4 linked regions of the Homo sapiens genome follow. The protein of the gene in region 4 purifies or fractionates together with the protein of the main gene of each other region. This does not show direct contact. Each region holds a gene or a part of one and is shown on either strand. Other genes may lie near its edges.

Region 1 (3,500 bases), on a different chromosome or scaffold from region 4:
TTCTCAGAGCCCAGGCCAGGCCGCTCCCTGTAGCCTAGGCCTCCTCCACCAATGTTCAGCTTTTTTCCTTTCCCTCCTTTGAATCGAGATTTCCGAAACCAGGCATTCTGCATTGAACAAAATTCAAGGTTAAGTCAAGGGAGGGAGAAAAGAACAGAAGAAGAGAACGAGGACAAAGAGGAAATTAAGTGGGAAGGGGGAACTTTTGCTTAATTTTCAGCCAGCACTACGCTAAGGGAGGAATTTTCACAGGAACCACAGATTGGTTTCTCTTTGGTAGCATAATCCACCAAATTTGAAAAGTGGCTGAGATCCTTATCTAAGGCTTCCTACAGTGCTCCCTCCCTCAAGGCTCTCCTGGAAGGGAAGTTGTTCAGGTAAGCTTCAAACCCAGAGGAGTAACTTTGGCTACTTCTAACTTCCTTGAGGAAAATGAGCTTATATTTTATTTCTCAAACCATGTATTATTGGACGTAAACATTTGGAACTTAAACAACTGGTATGTTCAGAAGCAAAGGAAAAATGCTATGTGAAGTGAGGCTTATCAGAACTGACTATAGGGACAGACTCCCAGAAAGGATGGTAGCCACACAACTGAAAATTTTATTTACCCGCAGAGCGTAAAAGTTTTCATTGAACTTGACCATTGCCACTCAACATATTTACTCACATTCTCTTAAGAATGCAGGGCGGTGGCTCACGCCTATGAATCCCAGCACTCTGGAGGCCGAGGTGGGCGGATCACTTGAGGCCAGGAGTCAAGACCAGCCTGACCAACATGGTGAAACCCCGTCCCTACTAAAAATACAAAAATTAGCCAGGCATGGTGGCACATGCCTCTAATCCCAGCTGCTTGGGAGGCTGAGGCAGGAGAACTGTTTGAACCGGAGACGCAGAGGTTGCAGTGAGCTGAGACTGCGCCACTGCACTCCAGCCTGGGTGATAGAGTGTGACTCCATCTCAGAAAAAAGAAAAAAAAAAAAAAAAAAAAAAAGCAAATGTCTCTGGGAAGGTTAAAGTTTTATCTGACAATCACATATTACCAGCAAAATAAAGTGCTTGAGAGGTAGGGCAGCAGGCTTGGACAAAGTCCTGAGCACAGAAAGCCTGAGGTACAAAAAGAAATGGAAGAAAATGCCAAAGTCAAAATGTGTCCTGTTTTAAAAGTTTATTTAGGACTAGCTCTCTGTGCTCAGGAGCAGGGGAGGAAACATTATTCTCTTCTCTCCTGCAGTGCAGGTCCTTTACTCCTAGGACCAGAAACTTGGGCACTGCCACATTGCAGCTGGGTTGTACCAGTTGTGTGAGCTGGCCTAGGCATTTGACAAACTCTTAACAGTTTCTGCTCTCAGAAAGTGTTCCGAACCCATTTGTAATTTGGGGACAGCATGGATTCAGATGACTCCAGGTTTGATTTGTTAGAATGCCTCACTTAGCTTTAGATTGGAGCACACCTGGAAGAGGGCAATCAGTGTGGTCAGAGGTCTGAGATCTCTGCAAGGAACAGTTAAGAGGCACCATACAGGCTGGGCACGGTGGCTCACGCCTGTAATCCTAGCACTTTGGGAGGTTGAGGCCGAGGCGGGCGGATCACCTGAGGTCAGGAGTTCGAGACCAGCCCGACCAACATGGCAAAACCCCATCTCTACTAAAATTACAAAAATTGGCCAGGCGTGGTGGTGGGCGCCTGTAATCACAACTGCTTGGGAGGCTAAGGCAGGAGAATTGCTTGAACCCAGGAGGCAGAGGTTGCAGTGAGCCGAGATCGTGCCATTGCACTGCAGCCTGGGCGATAGAGTGAGATTCTGTCTCAAAAAAAAAAGGTGGGGGGGCACTATACTATACACATATTGTTTTAAAGGCATCACACATTTTTAGCCTCCCAGAAGAAAAATTTTGTGGGGGAAGAGCAGTAAGGAGAATAGTAACCATCTTTGAGATTAAATTTACTCCTAAGTGTGCTATGGGGTAGAAATTACAGCGACAGATTTTAGCACAAAGGAATAGCTTTTCAAAACAGATGCTGTTGAAAGAAGAAGACCAGATAAGACTAGATGAATTTTAGTATCTCACAATTCCTATCTGTACCTCATAAGCCCCACATCCTCCTAGCCACCCAACTTTCTTGTCAAGTTTTTATGTTATCTGTTCCAGGACTGCTAAAATGTCTTGGTCTTATAACCAGGAGCAATTGAAAGTGTGCCCAGCCCCTCACCTGCATTGCCAGATCTAGGAGTTCCTTAGAAACGTGTTGATTGGCTCCTTCCAAGTTCCGGACCAGGTCACCAGCAAAATTGCTGTCCTTGGGAGTGAGTAGGGTATAGGCCACACCTTTCTCACCCGCTCTTCCTGTGCGGCCAATCCTATGCGTGTGGGTATCAATGTCTCGTGCCACATCATAGTTAATGACAGTCTTAATTGAAGGAATGTCCAGACCACGGGCTGAAATAAAAAGCAACCAAATTCTTTTATTCTTCATCTGTAGTCAGAAGATCAAAGTAACCAGAAATGCTAGTGCTAATAAGCCACATTTCCTTTATCTAGGCAAAGCGCATGGGTTTGGTGAGCTGAGATACAGGCATGTTAAGTCACCACCACAGATTCTATGATGTTAGGCCTTCTAGTGTAAGGGACTTTTATTTTTTAGAGACGGAGTCTTGCTCTGTTGCCAGACGGGAGTGCAGTGCCATGATCTCGGCTCACTGCAACCTCCGACTCCCTGGTTCAAGCAATTCTCCTGCCTCAGCTTTCCAAGTAGCTGGGATTATAGGCACGCGCCACCACACCCAGCTAATTTTTGTATTTTTAGTAGAGACGGGGTTTCACTATGTTGGCCAGGATGGTCTCGATCTCCTGACCTCAGGTGATCCGCCCGCCTCCACCTCCCAAAATGCTGGGATTACAGGTGTGAGCCACCGTGCCCGACTGGGACTTTTATCTTTTGCATCAGTAATCTGCCATGCCCTCTTCTCTTGCACTGGGAATATATATTTAAAATGTGTCATGAAGCTGAGAAGTTCTCTCCTTTCTAGGAAAAAATATCAGTGTTTAAGGGTAGTTATTAAAACTTGACAGAACAAATCCAGAAATTATATTCCAAAAACTGTTCTCATCCTGAGTTAAGTTGCCCAACTAAGCTGTGTATAGTAGATCAATGTAAGGGTAAGGTATCTACTATATTCAGACATACAATAAGGGCATTCACTGCCTTTTTTCCCAGAGTGACTTCTAGCTGCAGGGATTCTTTGATTAGAGAGAAATACTAAGTGAAAAGTGGTATCTAGAGCTCCAGACTGTGATCCCTGTGCTGAACTGCTGCTTCCTTGGGGGTTTGGGAGGGGATGGCCAGCCAGGCCAACAGTCTTTCCATCAGCCTGCTCAGATATTATAGGTCTTATGTAGTAAGACAGAGTACCCTTATAGCCTAGGAACTTAATGTTGTTGAAAAATTCATACTCTACCTGCAACATCTGTGGCCACCAGGACTGGGATGTCCTTTT
Region 2 (2,699 bases), on a different chromosome or scaffold from region 4:
TTGTATAAGATATTATAGAGCTTTTTATGCTTTAGAAGTTAAACAATATCTTTGGGGGGGAACTAATTTATTTTCATCACTTGAAATGTGGTAGCTCTTACAAAGTTTATTGATTTGATTTTTTTAAAAATCAAAAGCCAATTGAACAACAGGATATATAGACTGATAAATATTTAGGCTGAATAGTATTTTAACACTTGTCTTCAACTTGATTTGTCTGTTTAATTGAAAAGAATTATAAGAGTTACTGTTGCATTTTCTGACCTACTATTTTTAAAATTCCTGTTGAGTTTCTTTGTGTTTACAAGGAAAGGACTGAACTTTTTCTCATCAAAACTAGCTTTTTTCCCCACAAATAAATTATCAGGTTAAACTTTCACCAATGTCTGCTCTGTTTTTTGTTTTTGGGGGGTTTTTGTTTGTTTTTGTTTTTTAATGTTTTTGGTACACTGGGCAGACTTCAGAGCAGTTTTTTAAAAAAATAAATATTCTAATGTAGCTATCTCGCCATTCCCTTTAAATACCTGTCTTAACCTCCTGCTTTTCTTTCCTACTCCTTTCCACACATACGCACACAATCTTCTACCTTTTAAAGGATCATTAAGACTGTCACCACATTAGGAGCTCTTTCTCTCACTCTTCTGTCATTTGCTGCTATGTTGAAATTCTTATTTTGACCATCAATGCCTATGAATTCTTCTAATACGTGAAGAAAATAGTTTGAGTAGCAGCAGTGCTATAGGTGGGAAATACAGTTTAGCTGCTGAATTTCTATACCTCTCTGATTTACAGATTGCTAATTAAATGGCTATTATTAGTTTGGATTAATTAGACTTAAGAAAACAACTAACTGAGGGTTTTTTTTGTTTGTTTTTTGAGGGTTTTCTTTGCATGAGAATTGTATGTAACCAGTGATATGATTATTCCTGAATGTACAGACAGAAGTAAGCCTGGACATTGTTAAATAGTCCCTGCTTTAAGGGACTACGATAATGTGTACTATGACAAACGTGCTTTATTCTTCTAACGCAGTAAGAATTAGGTGGAATTTTTTCCTTCAACCAAGTGCAGGAAAGCCCTGTGTGTCTTGGTTTAGTTATGGTTTCATTTCTAGCCATACAATTGATGAATTGTGTACAACTTTTGTTAGTACCAAAATAATCTGTTATATGAACAGACTTCTAAAATAACGTCTGTATATTTTATATATAGATACATATATGAAAGAAGGCTTTTATTGAACAGCTTATCTTCCACTTGCAGGTTTATGGAAACAGCAGTATTTGAAAATAAATAAAAAGTGGGAGAATTCCTTGCTGTTAGAAGAATGTGGCCATTATTTTGATTTTTTGAATGAGATATATAATCAAAGTACTGCTGAACTGTGAGTGCAGTATTCTAAACATTTCAGCTAGGAATACCACTGATTTAGAAACAAAACTGTTTGTCTCTGGTTTCTGAATTTAAAATGTTGGGATTACCTGTTTAAATCTGTCTTGGGGGATGTAGAGATTAAGTCTGTACATGTGCGTGCACATATATTCATGCACCCTCTGATTTTGGTTTTCTTGTTTCTGAGTTCTTAGAAAGTACCCACATACTCTTTTTTTTTTTTTGTAGAAGTAGCTGTCATAGAGTGAAGAAAAGGATAAGACTTTAAACAGTTGATTCTTTTTGTGTTTTCTACAAACTATTTTTTGAAATTTAAATCACAAACTCATTTTCTGGTTTTTAGAAAGTAGATGATGATTTCAGAGGAGTAAGGCATGCCAAGCAGCATGCTCAGTGGGGTTTTAGGCTGTCACATGCAGCTGAGAAAAGGTATGTTCAAGTCATAAGTAGGTAATTGATAGGGTATGAACTAGTCAAAATATGAACCATTATGATTCAAGTTAGATTTTCCTCTGGAGAGACAGATCTGAATGTTCAGTTCTAGCCAAGGTAGATTTTACTTTCAACTTTTTAATCAGTATCACTTTCTGTGCTTAACTATTTGGTGTTACCTTGTCTGTTTTCATTTGTCTAAAATTCTGCAGAGATGACTAAAATTTGACATAATGGTGTAAATGGATTGTTAAGGTAACTTTCAGTTGAAGATTAAAGCAAGATGCCATTTTCCCCATGACTTTGGTTTTGTTTACATTTTTCCCTTTCAGTTAGTATACACTACACGTACTGTAATAAAATACAATAATATGACAATTGCCTGTGTGTGGATTTTATTTTATTGTTACTTAGCTATCTCAAGACCATAATCCATCGACCACTTGCCCTGGATACCAGGAGTGGATCATGGATTACGCTGTGGCCGAGTAGTTTCCTCAGTCTTAGTAGCATTGTGCTCAGTCCCTTACATCTAACCCTCAAAACCACCACACAAAGGCAAGCATTCTTATCTACACTTTGTAAGTGAGGAAAGTGCTCTTGGTCAACTTATTTATTAATCATTTCAGTGCCTCACACATGCTAAATGATAGGATTTAAATCCAAACCTAACTAAATTTCATGGTCTTTATTCATACATTTTTTGATGTAGAAAACATTTTAGAAATTGTACCTTACAAATAAATGTATATGGATTATTGATCCATAACTATGCTTTAGGAGTAGCATTTTTCAGGTGTTTGAGCTTCTGGGGTTTTTTAAAATCTGAAAAATTGGAAATAACTTAATTTTGTTTGCAGTTTGTGTGCCATCTA
Region 3 (3,500 bases), on a different chromosome or scaffold from region 4:
AGACAGCCTTCAGGGGCTCTGAAAGGGGATGACGAGGTCTCCAAAGCACAGTATTAGGCAGGGGTGGGGTGGCTGCCTGTCCTGCCTCCCTGGGTCTCACTGTTTCTCCCTGGAAGACCTCAGGCCAACTCTGACCTAGGCCCCATGGCTTGAGACTGCAATGTGTCGGGGTACGGGAGTCCCTCAGGGAGCCAGGGTCAGAGGGCAGAGAATGGCAGGGGACGAGAGCATGGTGGCAGTGCTGCATGTGAGGGTCCAGGGCCTGGGAGGAGTGGCCATGATGCTCAGGCTTCCCATGCCCCTCTCAGAGCTTCTGCCTTGGTCGGTTGTGCCAGCTCTGAGCAGGAACACGGGTCAGGGACAGTCCAGCCCCTTGCCCCAACCTAACTGGGTCAGGGCCCCAACCCTGTCCCCCACTGAAGGCAGGTCGGGAGCAGCCACACCTGCCAAGCCCTCTCCAGGGTCCATAGGTAAGTGATGCCCAGGTCCTGCAGCAGGGGAGAAGGTTGTGGGAATGTGGAAGGCCGGTGTCCCTGGGAAGAGGGGGTCTCATGTGCACCACCACAGAGACCCCAACTTATGCCCAACTAGCTGTGAGGGCACTTGAGAGTGCTGGGGGTGAGGGGCTCCCGAGGGCTGCTTAGGCTCAAACAGTCCCTGGGTGGGCATGGAACTGCCACTCCTCTGGAATTCTGAAGTAACCTGGAGGGCTGAGGGCTGGTGGTTGTGACATTGGTGGGGAGTACAGGGAGTACACCTTGTTTGCCAAGCTGACAGGGATCATTGAGCTGCCTGACACCATGCTGCTCCCAGACCCTGCCTGACGTACCCCAAGGCCATTGCACAATGGGCCTCGAGTAGACATCTGTCACCATCACGGCTTGATCAGCCAGTCACATGCCCTATCACAAGCTCACATCTGAGGCCCTGTAGGGTGGTGCCCACCTCACCTGCAGCCTCCATACCCCAAACCCGCTGGATGCCTGGGCCCAAGGGCGTGAATCACTGTCTCTACCCCCACAGGTCTGCCTGTGCTTTGCTCTTGTTTGCTCTGCTGGAATGCCCCCATCAGGGGCATCAGCACCCTTTGTAAGACCCATTCCTGTCTGGTGCCTCTCACCAACCGAATCAGGTGAGGGCATGGGTTCCGGAGTCCAGTCCCCGTTCTAACTCTCAGTAGCTTGTTACTTAACATTAACCTCTTTAAAACCATCCCTTTGCTTCTTGGGTAAAAGTTCTCCAGCCACACCTACCCAACTCGAGGTCAGGGTAAGGTGAGTGGAGTTCCAGATCCAGGGGCTCTGGCCTGCCCGAGCTCCCTGAATTCCAGGCAACAACCCCCAGCCCCCTCTGTGAGTGACAGTAAGAGGCATTAATGGACCCCAGGGAAGAGCTAGGAGCAGGAAGGGAGAGAAGAGCACAGCTCAAGAGTGGGTGACTCCTCTCAGTCAGAGCTGCCTGGGCGGTAGTGAGCACTCCATCTTCAGGGACAGACAAGCAGAAGTGGGACAGGGTGGTGTTTATGTGGAATAGCCTATCCCAGGCCTAGGGGGTCCCCCCATTCAGTATCAGGACGGGGAGGACAATGTCAAGCTAAACGTGACTTCTGGCTACATCACCAGGACTGGAGGTCAGGCTTGGAGGATGTTAGGCCATGGGATGAAGCAGGAAGATGGGACTTTGCTGGGGCAGGGACAACTGAGGATAGTGGTTTGAGTGCCTGGGTGGCTGGGCCAGTCTCTCCCACTTACCTGGAGAGGGGGTGCTGAAAGGGTGGACCTTCTGATCTCCATGACACCCACCCTGCCCCAGGGCCTGACCATCCCCTTGTACTATTGTTTTTTTTGTTTTTTTTTGAGACGGAGTCTCGCTCTGTCGCCGGCCCAGGCTGGAGTGCAGTGGCGCGATCTCAACTCACTGCAAGCTCCGCCTCCCAGGTTCACACCATTCTCCTGCCTCAGCCTCCTGAGTAGCTGGGACTACAGGCACTCGCCATCACGCCTGGCTAATTTTTTTTTTTTTTTTTTTTAGTAGAGATGGGGTTTCACTGTGTTAGCCAGGATGGTCTTGATCTCCTGACCTCGTGATCTGCCCGCCTCAGCCTCCCAAAGTGCTGGGATTACAGGCGTGAAACACCGCGCCTGGACACTATTTTTTTTTAAGCAAGGAAAGCATAGATTTATTGAAATGAAAGTACACTCCACAGAATGGAAGTAGGTTCAAGCAAGCGGCTCAAGAGCTGACCAATCCCTTTTACTATCACTAAGGAAAATGGGAATTTCCTTCTAGGGTCCCCATAGACCCCATGGTAACTGACCCTGTTTCTACGGGGACCCCACACTTCCCCATCAGCTCCCCAGTTGTCATAACAACTCCAGGAATCACCAGTGCCCACCCAAGCCTGGGCTGTGTGCTCATCTCCCTATCACTACAGGCCCTTCTCCTTCAGGTGCCTTGGTAATAGAGGCAGGGGACCAAGCACCAAAGAAGTGACTCCACCTTCCCTTTACCCATTTCAGGAAGGTAAACTGAAGCCCAAAAAGGATATGACCAGATAAAGCCAGGTGCGGTGGCTCACGCTTGTAATCCCAGCACTTTGGGAGGCTGAGGCGGGCAGATCACAAGGTCAGGAGTTTGAGAGCAGCCTAGCCAACATAGTGAAACCCCGTCTCTACTAAAAATACAAAAATTAGCCGGGTGTGGTGGCACACGCCTGTAGTCTGAGCTACTCGGGAGGCTGAGGTAGGAGAACTGCTTGAACCCGGGAGGCAGAGGTTGCAGTGAACTGAGACCATGCCATTGCACTCCAGCCTGGGTGACAGAGTGAGACTCTGTCTAAAAAAAAAAAAAAAAAGGAATATGACCAGGTAAAGTACCGGGGGAGTGGAGGGCCTGACCAGGTTTCTGAGAGGCAGTAGAGATCATCAGTTAGGGAGAGGGAACTCTCAGGGAAGTGTAGGCAGGACGAGGTTGCCTCCAGCCTGACCTAACCTCCCTGAACCCTTCTGAGGCCTCAGTGGCATAGCTGGACAGGTCAGCTTCTGCTCCCTCCTGTCACCTGAGGGTTTGTTCTGCCCTGAACTTTGTGACCCTGAGTGCCCTTCCACATTCAGTGCCCCCTCACTCTGTGACCCCATTCACTGGAGGGGTTGCTGAACATCACTGCTGCTCCGGCCTGAACAGGGGCCACTCATCTGCATGCTATGTGGCATTAACTTTTATGGGCTGCCCAACCGCCAGCCTGTCAGGTGCTGTCCCCAGTCCCCCAAGACTCTCCTGCCCTTCCTATGCCTACCCTGGGGGAGCTCTGGTGGGCTCTGAGTCCTCTAGATGAGCCCCCACCTGTCCACCAGGCCTGCTTGACTAGCTCTGCCCTGCCCCAACTCCTGACAATTTGCTTCTTGTCCCACTGCTCCTGCTGTTTCTTCCTCTCAGCCTTCAAAGCCCAAACTCAGCCTCCTCTGGGGTGACTTCCTGACTGGTCACTGCCATGGGACCCA
Region 4 (3,500 bases):
TGGATGGAAACCTTGTAAGGATCTTGCTTCCAAACTTTTGGAGAACTAGTATATTCTCATGGCACATAAGCAATAAGCAGTAAACATACTATATTTATAGTCAAGGTAAGTGCTAACATTATGACATTCCCCAATGAAAAGATATCTCAAAAATCCCCCAGTATCCCAACTTCTGCATAAATACAATAAGGATCTCACCTACAACAGTTTTGCGATAACCAGCAAATTCTCCCTTGTCTTATGTCATTTTTGTGTGTTCTATTAAACCAAAATACTTATTACAACGGTACTTCTTAAAAAAAGAAGTAATAACTCTACACAGTTTTTTTTTTTTTTAAATAAGGTCTAGATAAGTTCAGAGTTATAGTTGCAATGATATGACAAGGGTTTCCATGTTAGCTAGTAGCATGGCTAAAAAAGAGTACATTTATATGAGAGGAATGTGTGTCTTTTCTAAATAAAATTTAAGACATATTACTGTTGAATCATGAAATGCCTGAAGCTATATTGTTTGCCTCTTATAGAATGCTTACCTGTGGTTCAGTCAGCATTATTTCATACAATAAAGCAAACAGATATTTTTAATGTCTTTAAGTAATCTTGTTGATTTTTTTTATTTTCCTGTCTGGATGTAGCTGAAAGTACCCATGGCAGACAAGCCTGGTAACACAGTGAATTTCCGGAAGCTGCTACTGAACCGTTGCCAGAAGGAGTTTGAAAAAGATAAAGCAGATGATGATGTCTTTGAGAAGAAGCAGAAAGAACTTGAGGCTGCCAGTGCTGTAAGTATTTTCATAGAAAGACAGTGCTTGTACACTTTGAGCACTGTAAAGTAGAAATTTCAGGAAGCTAGATACAGCATCTCCCTGCTACCTTAAGAGGGACCTATGGCCTTTTTTTTTCCATGTAGAAACAACATATTAATGTTTAGGGGAATGCTTTGTTCCTTTTAGTGCCTAATATAGGGGACAGCTAAATTTTCCATGCCAGCCATTCAATCTAAGCCTGAGTCAGGTCACTGAGTTCCAAAAATCTGAAATGGATGGGTATAGTTCAGTTTTCTGAGCAGTAGATTCTACACTTGCTATCAGATTCTCACGGGGATTCTGACCCCATGAATCTCAGTGTTTATTGTGCAGTACAACTTTCATCATCAAGATGCTATTATTCCTCCTTACACAACAGCCAGAGGAGAGGACAAGGCTTCATGATGAACTGGAAGAAGCCAAGGACAAAGCCCGGCGGAGATCCATTGGCAACATCAAGTTTATTGGAGAACTCTTTAAACTCAAAATGCTGACTGAAGCCATCATGCATGACTGTGTGGTGAAGCTGCTAAAGAACCATGATGAAGAATCCCTGGAGTGCCTGTGTCGCCTGCTCACCACCATTGGCAAAGACTTGGACTTTGAAAAAGCAAAGGTAAAAATCCAAAAGCTCAGAAACCTTCGCAAAGGCTCCTTGTCAGTTGCAAAAGAACTTAGACTGTCAACAGAATAGTTCTATCTTTTCCCAAAGGTCTGGGCTGTTTATTTTTCTTCTTTTGCCCGTCTCATTGTCAGTGTTCAACCATCGTGCTCCTTACATTTCCATCAGAGTCAGAGATGAGGAGGGTCCCAAATTGTGTAAAAGCCAGTTTGTAGATTCTTCAGATTATTTGTCCCATATTCTTTTTTCTTCTTCTGTAACCATTTCCCAATTTGGGAACAGAAATATGCAAAGAAAAACTATGGCCTAAGGGTAGTGCAGAAATGAAGACCCAGTAGTGCTTCTAGAGTTTATACTCTAATTGATGACACAGCCATCTAACCATAATATAAGAAATCATTAAAAATACTGTAATAATGTATGCTATTTAAGGGGTATAGAAATTAGAAATGCTTCAAAGAAATAATGTCAGAAACGCTCCATAACATCTGATTCAGCTAGGATTATGCTTAGCTGTGACAGAAAACCCAGTGGTTTATACAAGATTGAGGTTTACTTCTTATTTATGTAAACAAAGCTCTGAGGTAAGTCCTTTCAGCTTAACATTCTGTGACTCCTAAAGTTTAACCCTTGTCCTAATTATTCTCACCAGAGAAGGTAGGAAAAGGGGCAAAAGACACAGCCACCTCTCTCTCTCTCTCTTTTTTTTTTTTAAGTAACAGGGTCAGCCGGGCACGGTGGCTCATGCTTGTAATCCCAGCACTTTGGGAGGCTGAGGCGGGCAGATCACCTGAGGTCAGGAGTTCGTGACCAGCCTGACCAACATGGAGAAATCCCGTCTCTACTAAAAATACAGAATTAGCCAGGCATGGTGGCGCATGCCTGTAATCCCAGCTACTTGGGAGGCTGAGGCAGGAGAATTGCTTGAACCCGGGAGGCAGAGGTTGCAGTGAGCCAAGATTGCGCCATCGCACTCCAGGCTGGGCAACAAGAGTGAAACTCCATCTGAAAAAAAAAAAAAAAGGAAAAAAAAAAAAAAGGTAACAGGGTCTTGCCCTGTCACCCAATTTTTTTTTTTTTTTTTTTTTTTTACTTTTTGTAGAGATGATGGGTCTCACTTAGTTGCCTAGGCTGGTCTTAAACTCCTGGCTTCAAGCAGTCCTTTTGCCTTGGCCTCCCTAATTGCTAGGATTACAGGTATCAGTCACTATGCCTGGCCCCTCTGGTCTCTTTAGGAAGGCCCTAGGAAGCTATAGCATAACATTTCCATTTATATTATTGCCTATCATTAATCACGTGACCAAAGCCAGCTGCCAGGAGCCTAGAAAAATGTAGTCTTTATTTTAGGTGGTCATATGAACAACTAAAAATTCTACCATATGGCCGGGCACAGTGGCTCACACCTATAATCCTAATACTTTGGGAGGCTGAGGCAGAAGGATTGTTTGAGCTCAGCAGTTTGAGACCAGCCTGGGTAACATAGTGAGATTTCCTATGTCCAAAAAATCATACACACAGAAAAATTTAGCTGGGTGTAGTGGCATATGCCTGTCTGTGGTCCCAGCTACTTGGGAAGCTGAGGCAGGAGGATCACTTAAGCCCAGGAGATTGAGGCTGCAATGAGGCATAATTGAGCCATTGCACTCCCAACTGGGTGACAGAACAAGACCCTGTCTCAAAAAAATACAAATAAAAATTCTACCACATTATATTTTGGCTATAAATTGATATTCCTAGACCATTTAGAAAACTACATGGGCTGGACGCAGTGGCTAATGCCTGAAATTCCAGCACGTTGAGAGGCCAAGGCTGGAGGATTGCTTGAGCCCAGGAGTTCAAGACCAGCCTGAGCAACATAATGAGACCCTGTCTCTACAAAAAATTAAAAGATTAGCCAGGCACGGTGGCACGTGCCTGTAGTCCCAGCTACTCGAGAGGCTGAGGTGGGATCGGTTGAGCCTGAGAGGTTGAAGCTGCAGTGAGCCGTGATTGTGCTACTGCACTCCAGCCTGGGCAACGGAGTGAAACCCCATCTCTAAAAAAATAAATAGATAACTACATAAATAAATAAC

The links.
Region 1: the proteins of EIF4G3 (region 4) and DDX42 fractionate together in Homo sapiens (co-fractionation; one large-scale study listed by BioGRID). This does not show direct contact.
Region 2: the proteins of EIF4G3 (region 4) and PPP1R2 fractionate together in Homo sapiens (co-fractionation; one large-scale study listed by BioGRID). This does not show direct contact.
Region 3: the proteins of EIF4G3 (region 4) and NBEAL2 purify together in Homo sapiens (tandem affinity purification; one large-scale study listed by IntAct). This does not show direct contact.

Annotation. Positions count from the first base shown.
Region 1 is NC_000017.11:63,812,170-63,815,669, reverse strand, and holds part of DDX42 (ATP-dependent RNA helicase DDX42), read right to left. Parts: coding exon 3,462-3,500; intron 2,443-3,461; coding exon 2,216-2,442; intron 108-2,215; coding exon 1-107. UniProt on the Homo sapiens protein: ATP-dependent RNA helicase that binds to partially double-stranded RNAs (dsRNAs) in order to unwind RNA secondary structures. Unwinding is promoted in the presence of single-strand binding proteins.
Region 2 is NC_000003.12:195,513,928-195,516,626, reverse strand, and holds the end of PPP1R2 (protein phosphatase inhibitor 2), read left to right. Parts: 3' UTR 1-2,199; downstream 2,200-2,699. UniProt on the Homo sapiens protein: Inhibitor of protein-phosphatase 1.
Region 3 is NC_000003.12:46,982,666-46,986,165, reverse strand, and holds part of NBEAL2 (neurobeachin-like protein 2), read right to left. Parts: intron 1-3,500. UniProt on the Homo sapiens protein: Probably involved in thrombopoiesis. Plays a role in the development or secretion of alpha-granules, that contain several growth factors important for platelet biogenesis.
Region 4 is NC_000001.11:20,862,398-20,865,897, reverse strand, and holds part of EIF4G3 (eukaryotic translation initiation factor 4 gamma 3), read left to right. Parts: intron 1-635; coding exon 636-782; intron 783-1,185; coding exon 1,186-1,422; intron 1,423-3,500. UniProt on the Homo sapiens protein: Component of the protein complex eIF4F, which is involved in the recognition of the mRNA cap, ATP-dependent unwinding of 5'-terminal secondary structure and recruitment of mRNA to the ribosome. Functional homolog of EIF4G1.